3 linked regions of the Homo sapiens genome follow. Changing the gene in region 1 together with any one later gene gives a genetic interaction. Each region holds a gene or a part of one and is shown in the gene's direction. Other genes may lie near its edges.

Evidence for each region.
Region 2: changes in ATR (region 1) and EDA together harm fitness less than expected from each alone (positive genetic interaction), as found in Homo sapiens cells (one large-scale study listed by BioGRID).
Region 3: changes in ATR (region 1) and POLA2 are lethal when combined (synthetic lethality), as found in Homo sapiens cells (one large-scale study listed by BioGRID).

What each region holds. Positions count from the first base shown.
Region 1 is NC_000003.12:142,558,079-142,561,733, reverse strand, and holds part of ATR (serine/threonine-protein kinase ATR), read left to right. Parts: intron 1-312; coding exon 313-491; intron 492-1,279; coding exon 1,280-1,471; intron 1,472-2,292; coding exon 2,293-2,483; intron 2,484-2,957; coding exon 2,958-3,110; intron 3,111-3,655. UniProt on the Homo sapiens protein: Serine/threonine protein kinase which activates checkpoint signaling upon genotoxic stresses such as ionizing radiation (IR), ultraviolet light (UV), or DNA replication stalling, thereby acting as a DNA damage sensor.
Region 2 is NC_000023.11:69,954,986-69,958,640, forward strand, and holds part of EDA (ectodysplasin-A), read left to right. Parts: intron 1-2,041; coding exon 2,042-2,147; intron 2,148-3,655. UniProt on the Homo sapiens protein: Cytokine which is involved in epithelial-mesenchymal signaling during morphogenesis of ectodermal organs. Functions as a ligand activating the DEATH-domain containing receptors EDAR and EDA2R. May also play a role in cell adhesion.
Region 3 is NC_000011.10:65,264,895-65,268,549, forward strand, and holds part of POLA2 (DNA polymerase alpha subunit B), read left to right. Parts: intron 1-1,687; coding exon 1,688-1,812; intron 1,813-2,582; coding exon 2,583-2,674; intron 2,675-3,655. UniProt on the Homo sapiens protein: Accessory subunit of the DNA polymerase alpha complex (also known as the alpha DNA polymerase-primase complex) which plays an essential role in the initiation of DNA synthesis.

The sequences.
Region 1 (3,655 bases):
AAGTTACATGAAGAAAGTTGGTAATTCCCTTACAGAATTTTTTATAAGGGAATTAAAATTTATAGCATTTTGGTAAGAGGAAAAACAGGATGTAGAGAGAAGGATTTGTTTAAACCTTCTAAGACTATAGAACCATAGTCTATATATAGACTTAAATAATATAGATCAATTTAGATGTTTATTTTGCTTTATGAGACTCTAAAAGTAGTTTCACTAGAAAACACCTAACATCTAATACATTCTTGCTGCCTATGAATAATATAAATATATTTTCTAAGGAATATTTCTGGAAATTATTTTTTATTTTCTCAGTACTTGTTGGGCCCACTTTATGCAGCTTTGAAAATGGAAAGTATGGAAATCATTGAGGAGATTCAATGCCAAACTCAACAGGAAAACCTCAGCAGTAATAGTGATGGAATATCACCCAAAAGGCGTCGTCTCAGCTCGTCTCTAAACCCTTCTAAAAGAGCACCAAAACAGACTGAGGAGTATGATGACCTTCATTCAGTTTGTATTTAGCCATTAAATAAAACTTTGTTCACTTTTAAAAATCAGCTTTAGTTAAGTGCTTTGATTTAAATACACAAAGAACATCTTTCTAAATGTAGCCAAGGGAGTGCTTAAAATATTTTTATAATTATTGTAGACGGTTAGTAGTATAAAACATTTCATGGTTAAATATAGTTACTTTGCATGTTTTTATATGCTTATCTAATTTAACTTTTTAATATGTGAAAAATCTTTGAGACTGTGCATCTATTAGCAATTTTTAAAACATTAACCAACTATTTTTTATAAAGTGGCTAAGTTGCCATATTTCAGTTACTTCTGAACATTGTTTTAATTGTTTTAAATCTTAGTATAAATTTCAGGCTGGGCGCGGTGGCTCACGCCTGTAATCCCAGCACTTTGGGAGGCCGAGGCGGGCAGATCACGAGGTCAGAAGATCGAGATCATCCTGGCTAACACGGTGAAACCCTGTCTCTACTAAAAATACAAAAAATTAGCCAAGCGTGGTGGTTGGCGCCTGTAGTCCCAGCTACTCGGGAGGCTGAGGCAGGAGAATGGCGTGAACCCGGGAGGCGGAGCTTGCAGTGAGCCGAGATGGCGCCACTGCACTCCAGCCTGGGAGACAGAGTGAGACTCTGTCTCACAAAAAAAAAAAATTTTTTTGAATAGTTGATATTACATAGTATGTTTTATTCTAAATATGTTTCATGTTTTAACCAAATTTATATTGCATATGAATATCTCTCTACTATATTCATAATTATAGAATTAAACATGTGGACATGAACCAAAAGAGCATATTATGGAGTGCACTGAAACAGAAAGCTGAATCCCTTCAGATTTCCCTTGAATACAGTGGCCTAAAGAATCCTGTTATTGAGATGTTAGAAGGAATTGCTGTTGTCTTACAACTGACTGCTCTGTGTACTGTTCATTGTTCTCATCAAAACATGAACTGGTAAAACAAACTTCTTGTTTCTTGGGGTTGGGTTTCCTGTAATGAACTTGGATTTACTGTTTACTCATTATTCACTTGACTCATGTAACCTTAGAACACAAACTTTTCACTGAAGTAGTTAATAAATTTATTTTCTATTGAGTCAAATGCTAGGTACGGTGCTAAGCACTGTATATATCTTAGTTAATATTTACAATAGTCCTGTAAGGTAAAGGCTATTATGCCTATTTTAAAAATTAGAAACTGACACTCAGAGAAACTGAGGCTCTTTTTTGTCTGAAGCCAAAACTGACTTTCCTGGGGACACATGATTAGAAAGTACCAGAACACATTTGTGTACAACTCAAAACCCAGTGTTTGGCTGTTGAAGACAGGGTCTCGCTTTGTCTCCCAGGCTGGTGCACAGTGGCATGATCATGGCTCACTACAGCCTTGATCTCTATCCGGGGCTCAAGTGAGCCTCCCATGTAGCTGGAACTATAGGCATGTGCCGCCACACCCTAATTTAGAAAAAATTTTTTTTGTAGAGATGGGTTTCCCTATATTGGCCCGGCTGGTCTCAAACTCCTGGGCTCAAGTGATCCTCCCACCTCAGGCTCCCAAAGTCATTTGGTTCCCAAATCCTAAGGGTGATTTAAGCTGACATAAATAGATTCAACTTAAAATAGTAATAACATATTACTTGATTTGCATGTTTACTTTAAATTGTTATAGATAAATTTCGTACTCACAATTTCTTTTGGCTTTACTACAATTTTATGTTTGACTATAACAAAATTCATCTTAATTCCAATGTTTTTAACAAAATGTACTTACTGCAGCCGTACTTTCAAGGACTGTCAACATAAATCCAAGAAGAAACCTTCTGTAGTGATAACTTGGATGTCATTGGATTTTTACACAAAAGTGCTTAAGAGCTGTAGAAGTTTGTTAGAATCTGTTCAGAAACTGGACCTGGAGGCAACCATTGATAAGGTGGTGAAAATTTATGATGCTTTGATTTATATGCAAGGTGAGTACAAATTAGCAACAGATCAGAATAACCTTTAAAGATAATCAGTATAGAAATATGCTTTCTTTTTTGCCTGAAGCCTAAGTGCGTGTTTGGAATACTCAGAAGTTTTTTCCTGATTTCAGTTCTATTAAATTTGTCAATAATAGAAGTTCTGAGTTGCCAATTTATGTGCATAATATTTTGATTCTTTAGTCAATAGAAATTATTTATAACTTCAAAGTTTTTTAATTTGGGAGTTTGAGGAATGCCGTGATTCTTCTTTAAAACAGGCATAGATAACATGTTTTTATAAAGTCACATTTAATTTCTTTGGGTTCACAGACCTCAGACCATCGTTTATAGATCTCTGTGTTAAGAATTTCTGCTTATCCAATGATCATTATGATAGTATTTCAAATGTCTTTATTTTTATTTAAAAGAGATATGATTAAGGAAAAGTTATAATTAATGACTTATTTTGTGCTTCTGTAGTAAACAGTTCATTTGAAGATCATATCCTGGAAGATTTATGTGGTATGCTCTCACTTCCATGGATTTATTCCCATTCTGATGATGGCTGTTTAAAGTTGACCACATTTGCCGCTAATCTTCTAACATTAAGCTGTAGGATTTCAGATAGCTATTGTAAGTGCTCACAAGAATGTGTGTGTGGTTTGTTTTATTTATCTATCTATCTATCTATCTATCTATTTATTTATTTATTTATTTATTTATTTATTTATTTTTGAGACGGAGTCTTACTCTGTCGCCCATGCTGGAGTGCAGTGGCGCAATCTCGGCTTGCTGCAACCTCCGTCTTCAGGTTCAAGCAATTTTCCTGCCTCAGCCTCCTGAGTAGCTAGGATTACAGGTGCGCACCACCATACCCAGCTAATTCTTATATTTTTAGTAGAGGCGGGGTTTCACCATGTTAGCCAGGCTGGTCTCGAACTCCTGACCTCAAGTGATCCACCTGCCCCAGCCTTCTAAAGTGCTAGGATTACAGGCGTGAGCCACCATGCCTGGCCTTGTGTGGTTTGTTTTAACTCATCTCTATATAGGACTTCTAAGACTTATTTATATTTTTTTCAATAATTAAAAGAGCAGGTACATTTTTAATAGTTCAGAAGGGGGTTAGATACATAAAAAGTAACACATAAAAGCCTGCCCCACATATCCCATTTCCTTTC
Region 2 (3,655 bases), on another chromosome or scaffold:
GCAAAGGACATGATCTCGTTCTTTTTTAATGGCTGCATAGCTGAAGTAAGTTTCAGCACTCAAAGTTATCAAGAAAACTCTTCTATCCAGGATGACTTGTAGAGTTGCAAATGATTGAGATTTTATTGTAAACAGCAGTTTAGTTTTATACTATTATTAGTACTTAGCTTATTTATATTGTGAGTTAAGTAACTTTCTGTGGGCTTATCAGGAGAACTAGCCAAACTTTATTATGTTGATTGTATGAGAAAATGCATTTTTACATTCCAATCAAGTGACTCAAAAATACTACTCAGTTGAACCATGTGAAATTGTTGATTGATATTCAACCATTTTTGACAAAAATGGCAGTTTATTTTGAAATGCAGTCCTGTTGACAAGATGGAAATTACCTACACATTGATTTATTAATTTTATATTTAATACATTCATGTATCCTTCAAGATGCTAATCCTACACCTTAAGGATATTGGGTAAATCACAGAATTTTGAAGAAAATTTGTGTGGAATATTGGGGCTTTCTTGGGTCCAACCCATTTTTTTTCCACTTAATCAGAGATGGAGCAGACATGAGGACTCTGGAATTTTTTATTTTTTGAACTGATAATAGAATGAAAATGCAGATTCATTTGTTCTATTTTAGGCCCCAAATTAACCATTCTATTTTGAAGATTAAGTTTAATAATAATAGTAATAGCAAACATTTATTAAGTGCATGCTACATGCTAAGTACTGTTCTAACTCTGCAACTGTTTTATCTGCAAAGTACTATTATTATCCCTACTTACTGATGAGGAAACTAAAGTTTAAGTAACTTGTTCCAGGTTATACAGCTAGTAAGTGGCAGAGTTGGCATTAGAATCACTCAGTCCTACTACCGTGTTTACTGTTTACCTCAAGCACATGGTTTTACCACAGTAAAGCACTCATGCTAAAAGATTATGATTCAATTCAGCAAATATATATTTAAGCTATGATTATTAGTGAAGCCAGACCCATTCACATATGAAACATATTGTATTATTATCAGAGACCATTATAAGACAGTAGAGGACCAGGTACCAAAATTAGTCTTATAGACCACAAGTGCTATAGGAATCTCAGAAGAGGAGAAAATAATTGTGTACTTTGTCATGACTAACTCCCAGAAGAGCATTGACAAATAGTACCTCAGTATTGGATGCACAGCATTTTGGGAACAAACCAAAATTACATCATAAATAGCAATGTGGCAAAATCATGAATGTGTAATAATGAAGTCCAATGGGGAGCAGCAAATTCAAGGTTTTCTTTCTTTCTTTCTTTCTTTCTTTCTTTCTTTCTTTCTCTTTCTCTTTCTCTTTCTCTTTCTTTCTTCTTTTTTTTTTTTTTTTTTTACAGAGTTTTGCTCTTGTTGCCCAGGCTGGAGTGCAGTGGTGCGACCTCAGCTCACTGCAACCTCTGCCTCCCAGGTTCAGGCGATTCTCCTACCTCAGCCTCCCCAGTAGCTGGGATTATAGGCACCCCCCACCACCACACCCGGCTAATTTTGTATTTTTAGTAGAGATGGGGTTTCACCATGTTGGTCAGGCTGGTTTCGAACTCCTGACCTCAGGTGATCCGCCCACCTCGGCCTCCCAAAGTGCTGGGATTACAGGCGTGAGCCACTGCTCCCAGCCAAATTCAAGGTTTTCTGTTCAATTTTCTGTTCAACTCAAATTCTGAGTGAGCATCCTCAGTATGTGTGGGAAGTTAGAAATTTGTGGCTAGGCTCTCTGAATCCCAGAAATATATGAAGAAATGGGACCTGATGGATTATTTATTAGATATTCAGGGTGGAAGAAATGGGATTCAGAAATTAACCAAAATGTCATGCCTACATGATTGGAATAATAATGGTATCAAAAATAAAATGGTTTGTACAGTGGAGGGGAAGATGGGCTCAGGCTTTAGACACATCAAACTTAAGGTACAGGTAGACTGTCTATGGAAAGCTGGTTTTTTATGTTGGCTATGACTGAGTGGGGTCAACCTTTGACTAATGTACTTGTAATTTTTACAGATGGCCCTATTGAATTTCTTCTTCCCTGATGAAAAGCCATACTCTGAAGAAGAAAGTAGGCGTGTTCGCCGCAATAAAAGAAGCAAAAGCAATGAAGGAGCAGATGGTAAGTCTACTCAGTTGATCCTTTATCACTTCTGAATTATTTGTTAGTAAAAGTATCCTTTTAAGAACTACCTTCTTGGTAGGGCATGGTGGCTCACGCCTGTAATCCTAGCACTTTGGGAGGCCCACGCGGGCAGATCACTTGAGGTGAGGAATTCAAAACCAGCCTGGCCAACATGGTGAAACCCTGTCTCTACTAAAAATACAAAAAAAATTAGCCGGGCCTAGTCCCAGCTGCTTGGGAGACTAAGGCAGGAGAATCGCTTGAAACTGGGAGGTAGAGGTTGCAGTGAGCTGAGACTGTGCCACTGCACTCCAGCCTGGGTGACAGTGCGAGACTCCATCTCAAAAAAAAAAAAACAAAAAAAAAAAACCACTACCTTTTCAAGTGTGCTTCATCATCTTATATACTGTCCACCACAGACCCAAGGTCATAGACTATTTCTGCAGCCTAACCTACCAATCAGTCCTTTAACATAGAACTAACTATACAAGGATCCTCCCTCCTCCAACTCCAGATACCTTCAGTCCTTTCTCAGTATGTCTGAGAGCCATGATAGCATTTGTATCTCTCAAAATCACCCTCTATAAGGGCCTCATCTCTCCCGGAGATGTCCCACACCTATTAAGGTCAACAGGAGGATTTGGTTCTATTCTTGGAATTGACAGTGTTGTACCCTGCTAGCACTTACATGATGTGTTAATTCCAATGATAATTTTATCAATGTTGGTATCCACTACCATGCCCAAATCTGAACTAGACCTTCTAGAACTAGTTTATAAGTTTCTTGTGGGCAGAGATTTCATTTCTCTTTGTATAAGCCTAGAATCTAGCCTACTATCTGGAACATTGTTGGTGATTGTTATGTAAGTCGATGATGTTGACTGCCCCTTCAGCTAGGCAGTGATGTATCAATGGAAACCATCCCTGTTCTGGGTGTAATAGCTTTGAGTTAACTAGCAATGCATTCTGTGGGGCATAACAAAATGTTGAGCTAGCTCCTGGGCAGGGTCTTTGAATTGCTCTGATATTTCAGCATCACTCTGTCAATTGACATAATGCTACCCCTTTGGGCACAGGGGTTTGTAGAATACATAGCTCTGGGCTGCTGCAAAGGCATCTGGATTCAAAGACAGCATGTGTCTGGCTACATCTGCCAATAATATGTGTCTGGAGGGTTACAAAGCAATATGACTTTATACAGATGAAAATGAAAATTTTAAACTGACATTTGTTGATGTGAGTAAGGGCCACTGATGGAAGCAGTTTTAGAGGGCGGAAGCTATTAAAGAGATGGAGCCAGGACTTTGTCAGTAGGGGCAATAAGAAGTATAACTGGCTGAAATCTGAGAAAGAGCTCAGAACAAGGACCCCATAATAATACCAAAAAAAAAAAAAAAAAGAGCCAGAGCAGTAAGATAGGGTTTTCTAGTCAGTGGAGGTGGCAGCAGCATTGAGCCTTTGAATGGAGAACTGGACCAGTGGGGCCATTCTCTAGAGAAGTCATT
Region 3 (3,655 bases), on another chromosome or scaffold:
CTACTTCCCACTCCAGTTCTCTCCTTCCCAATTACAGCAGACCTCAAAAGGGTCGGCCGGGTGCGGTGGCTCACGCCTGTAATCCGAGCACTTTGGGAGGCGGAGGAGGGCGGATCACAAGGTCAAGAGATGGAGACCATCCTGGCCAACGTGGTGAAACCCGGTCTCTACTTAAAATACAAAAATTAGCTGGGCATGGTGGCGCATGCCTGTAGTCCCAGCTACTTGGGAGGCTGAGACAGGAGAATCGCTTGAATCGGGGAGGTGGAGGTTGCAATGAGCCGAGATCGTGCCACTGCATTCCAGCCTGGCAACAGAGTGCAACTCTGTCTCCAAAAAAAAAAGGGGGGGGGCCTTGCCATCTTTAAATATTTCCTCCTTAAATCCATTTCAGTAAGTTCTTTTGTTGCCACCACTTCACCAAAGCTGCTCTACTCAAGGTCACCAGTGACCTTCACCATGCTAAAACCAGTGATGAATTTTCAGTCCTCATCTTGAATTGAATTAGCACCGGCACTTGACACTGTTTGTCATTTTTTCTTTTTTTAAACACATTTTTCTTTTAGCTTCTTAGACACTACTAGTTTTTCTTTCTTTTTTTTCTGAGACAGGGTCTTGCTCTGTTGCCCAGGCTGGAGTATAATGGGCAAATCACAGCTCACTGCAGCCTCAACCTCCTTGGCTCAAGCAATCCTTCCACCTCAGCCCCCAAGTAGCTGTAACTACAGGCACATGCCACCAAGCCCACCTAATTGTTGTATTTTTTATAGAAACGGTTTCACCCTGTTGCCCAAGCTGGTCTCAAACTTCTGGGTTCAAACAGTCTGCCCACCTCAACCTCACAAAATACTGGATTACAGGCGTGAGCCACTGCATCCGGCTTACTCCTAGTTTTTCTTCAGCTTTGCTTGTGTCACCGCTTCTCAGGCTTTGCCGATTCATCCTCAGAGGCCCTAAGGCGCCCCAAGACTCAAGCCTGGGATCTTTTCTCCCTTCTAGATACGCTCACTCCCTTGGCGATCTCACCTGGGGTCTCATAGCTTTATATCCCATGTATTTACTGATGGTTCCCAAATTTATACCTCCGCCCACAACCCTTGCCTGAACTACAGGCTGGTTTGTTCAGCCTGCTGTCTCCAGTTGGATGTCTAAATGGCACCTCAAACTCTGCATGTCTAAAACTAAGCTCCTGGTATCTCCTCTCTCTCCTCAGAGTAGTTCCTCTGGCTCTTTTCCCCATCTCAGTTAATAGGGACGCCACTCTTCCTGTTGCACAGGCTAAAAATATCAGCATCATCCTTGACTTTCTTTTTCTCATACCTTACATTCAGTTAGCAGATCCCACTGGCTTCACTTCCAGCATGTAAAGTCCTATCCAGAGTCCAGCCACTTCTCGCCATCTCCACTGCCACCACCTTGATCCAAGCCACCATCATCTCTCACCTGGGCTTTTCCATGATTCTTTAATTGGTCCCCCTGATTCTGCCCTTATCCTCTTTTGTCTCCCCTCAGTGGTGAGCTTTGTAAGGACAAGGATGCTTCTGTTTTCTCATTGCCCAAAACAGTGCCTGGCACTAATAGATTCTGAATAAACATTGATGGAGTAAACCAGGATTATTTTTGCTTTTCTAGGTGAAACTTCGAGAAATGAACTAAGTTTTTACTTGTCCAATTTTCCTTTCTACAGTGGTAGAGCTTTGTGTTCAGTATGGACAGAATGAGGAGGGAATGGTAGGCGAGCTTATAGCCTTCTGCACCAGCACACATAAAGTTGGCCTTACCTCAGAGATCCTGAACTCTTTTGAGCATGAGGTAAGAACAAAATGAAAGCAAACTAATAATGTGATTCTCCATTTCTGCTCTACAGGGGAGGCATTGTGATATATTGAGAGGAGTGTGGGCTTTCGAGTCAGGCCTGGATTCCAGTCCCAGTGTGAGCTTGGACAAACTATGTCCCTGAGCCTCAGTTTCCTTTTCTGACATTGGGTCTAATAATCTGTATTTTTTATGATTGTTATAAGAATTAAATGGGGCTGGGCGCCGTGGCTCATGCCCATAATCCCAGAACTTTGGGAGGCCGAGGCAGGCAGATCACAAGGTCAGGAGTTCAAGACCAGCCTGGCCAACGTGGTGAAACCCTGTCTCTACTAAAAATACAAAAATTAGTTGGGCATGGTGGCAGGCGCCTGTAATCCCAGGTACTCGGAAAGCTGAGGAAGGAGAATCGCTTGAACCGAGGAGGTGGAGGTTGCAGTGAGCTGAGATTGCGCCACTGCACTCCAGCCTGGGACAGAGCGAGACTCCATCTCAAAAAAAAAAGAAATGAGAATGGACATAAAGCACTTAAAACTATGCCCAGCAGGTGATAAGTCTTCACCAAATAATTGGTATTATTAGGATTGTTATATGTTATAGACAGTCATGGGATGTCTTTGTTTTTAGTCTGTGTGTATCTTAATTCTTTGAGGAATGTTAGATCTTTGATTATATTTTGAATACCTTTTATTATCTCAAGGCTTTTGAAAACACCTCTGCTATTACTTGACTATGAAGTACTGTATTCACTATCTTTTCTTTTTCAGTTTCTGAGCAAAAGATTATCGAAAGCCAGGCATAGTACCTGCAAGGACAGTGGCCATGCAGGAGCTAGAGACATTGTTTCCATTCAAGAGCTGTATCCTTTTCTGCTGAAGGTCTTTGCACCAAGCTACATGTTGTATTTTATAATTTGTCTGTAGTCGCATGTGTAATTTAAAAACAAATAATAAGGCCGGGCACGGTGGCTCAGGCCTGTAATCCCAGCACTTTTGGAGGCCGAGGCAAGCAGATCACTTGAGCCCAGGAATTTGTGACCAACCTGGGCAACATGGTGAAACCCTGTCTCTATCAAAAGTACAAATTTTTTTTTTTTTTTGAGTTGGAGTTTCGCTCTTTTTGCCCAGGCTGAAGTGCAATGGTGCAATCTCAGCTCACTGCAACCTCTGCCTCCCAATCTCAAGTGATTCTCCTGCCTCAGCCTCCTGAGTAGCTGGGATTACAGGTGCACACCACCACACCTGGATAATTTTGTATTTTTTTTGGTAGAGACAGGGTTTCACCATGTTGGCCAGCTGGTCTCGAACTCCTGACCTCAGGTGATCCGCCTGCCTAGGCCTCCCAAAGTCCTGGGATTACAGGCGTGAGTCACCGTGCCCGGCCAAAGTACAAATTAAAAAATAATAATAATAAGCTGGGTGTGGTGATGTACGCCTGTAGATCCAGCTAGTTGGTAGGCTGAGGTGAGAAAATCTCTTGAACCTGGGATGTGGAAGTTGCAGTAATCTGAGATCAGGCCACTGCACTCCATCCTGGACGACGAGGAAACCCCATCTCAATAATAATAATAGTAAAAATTGCCTAATATTGAGATTTCTTCTAGCAATCAGCCCTTGCCTTATATGAAAGTTTATTATTATTATTATTATTTTTTTTTTTTGAGATGGAGTCTCGCTGTGTCGCCCATGCTGGAGTGCAGTGGTGTGATCTCAGCTCACTGCAAGCTCCGTCTCCTGGGTTCATGCCATTCTCCTGCCTCAGCCTCCCGAGTAGCTGGGACTACAGGCGCCCGGCTAATTTTTTGTATTTTTTTTAGTAGAGACGGGGTTTCACTGTGTTA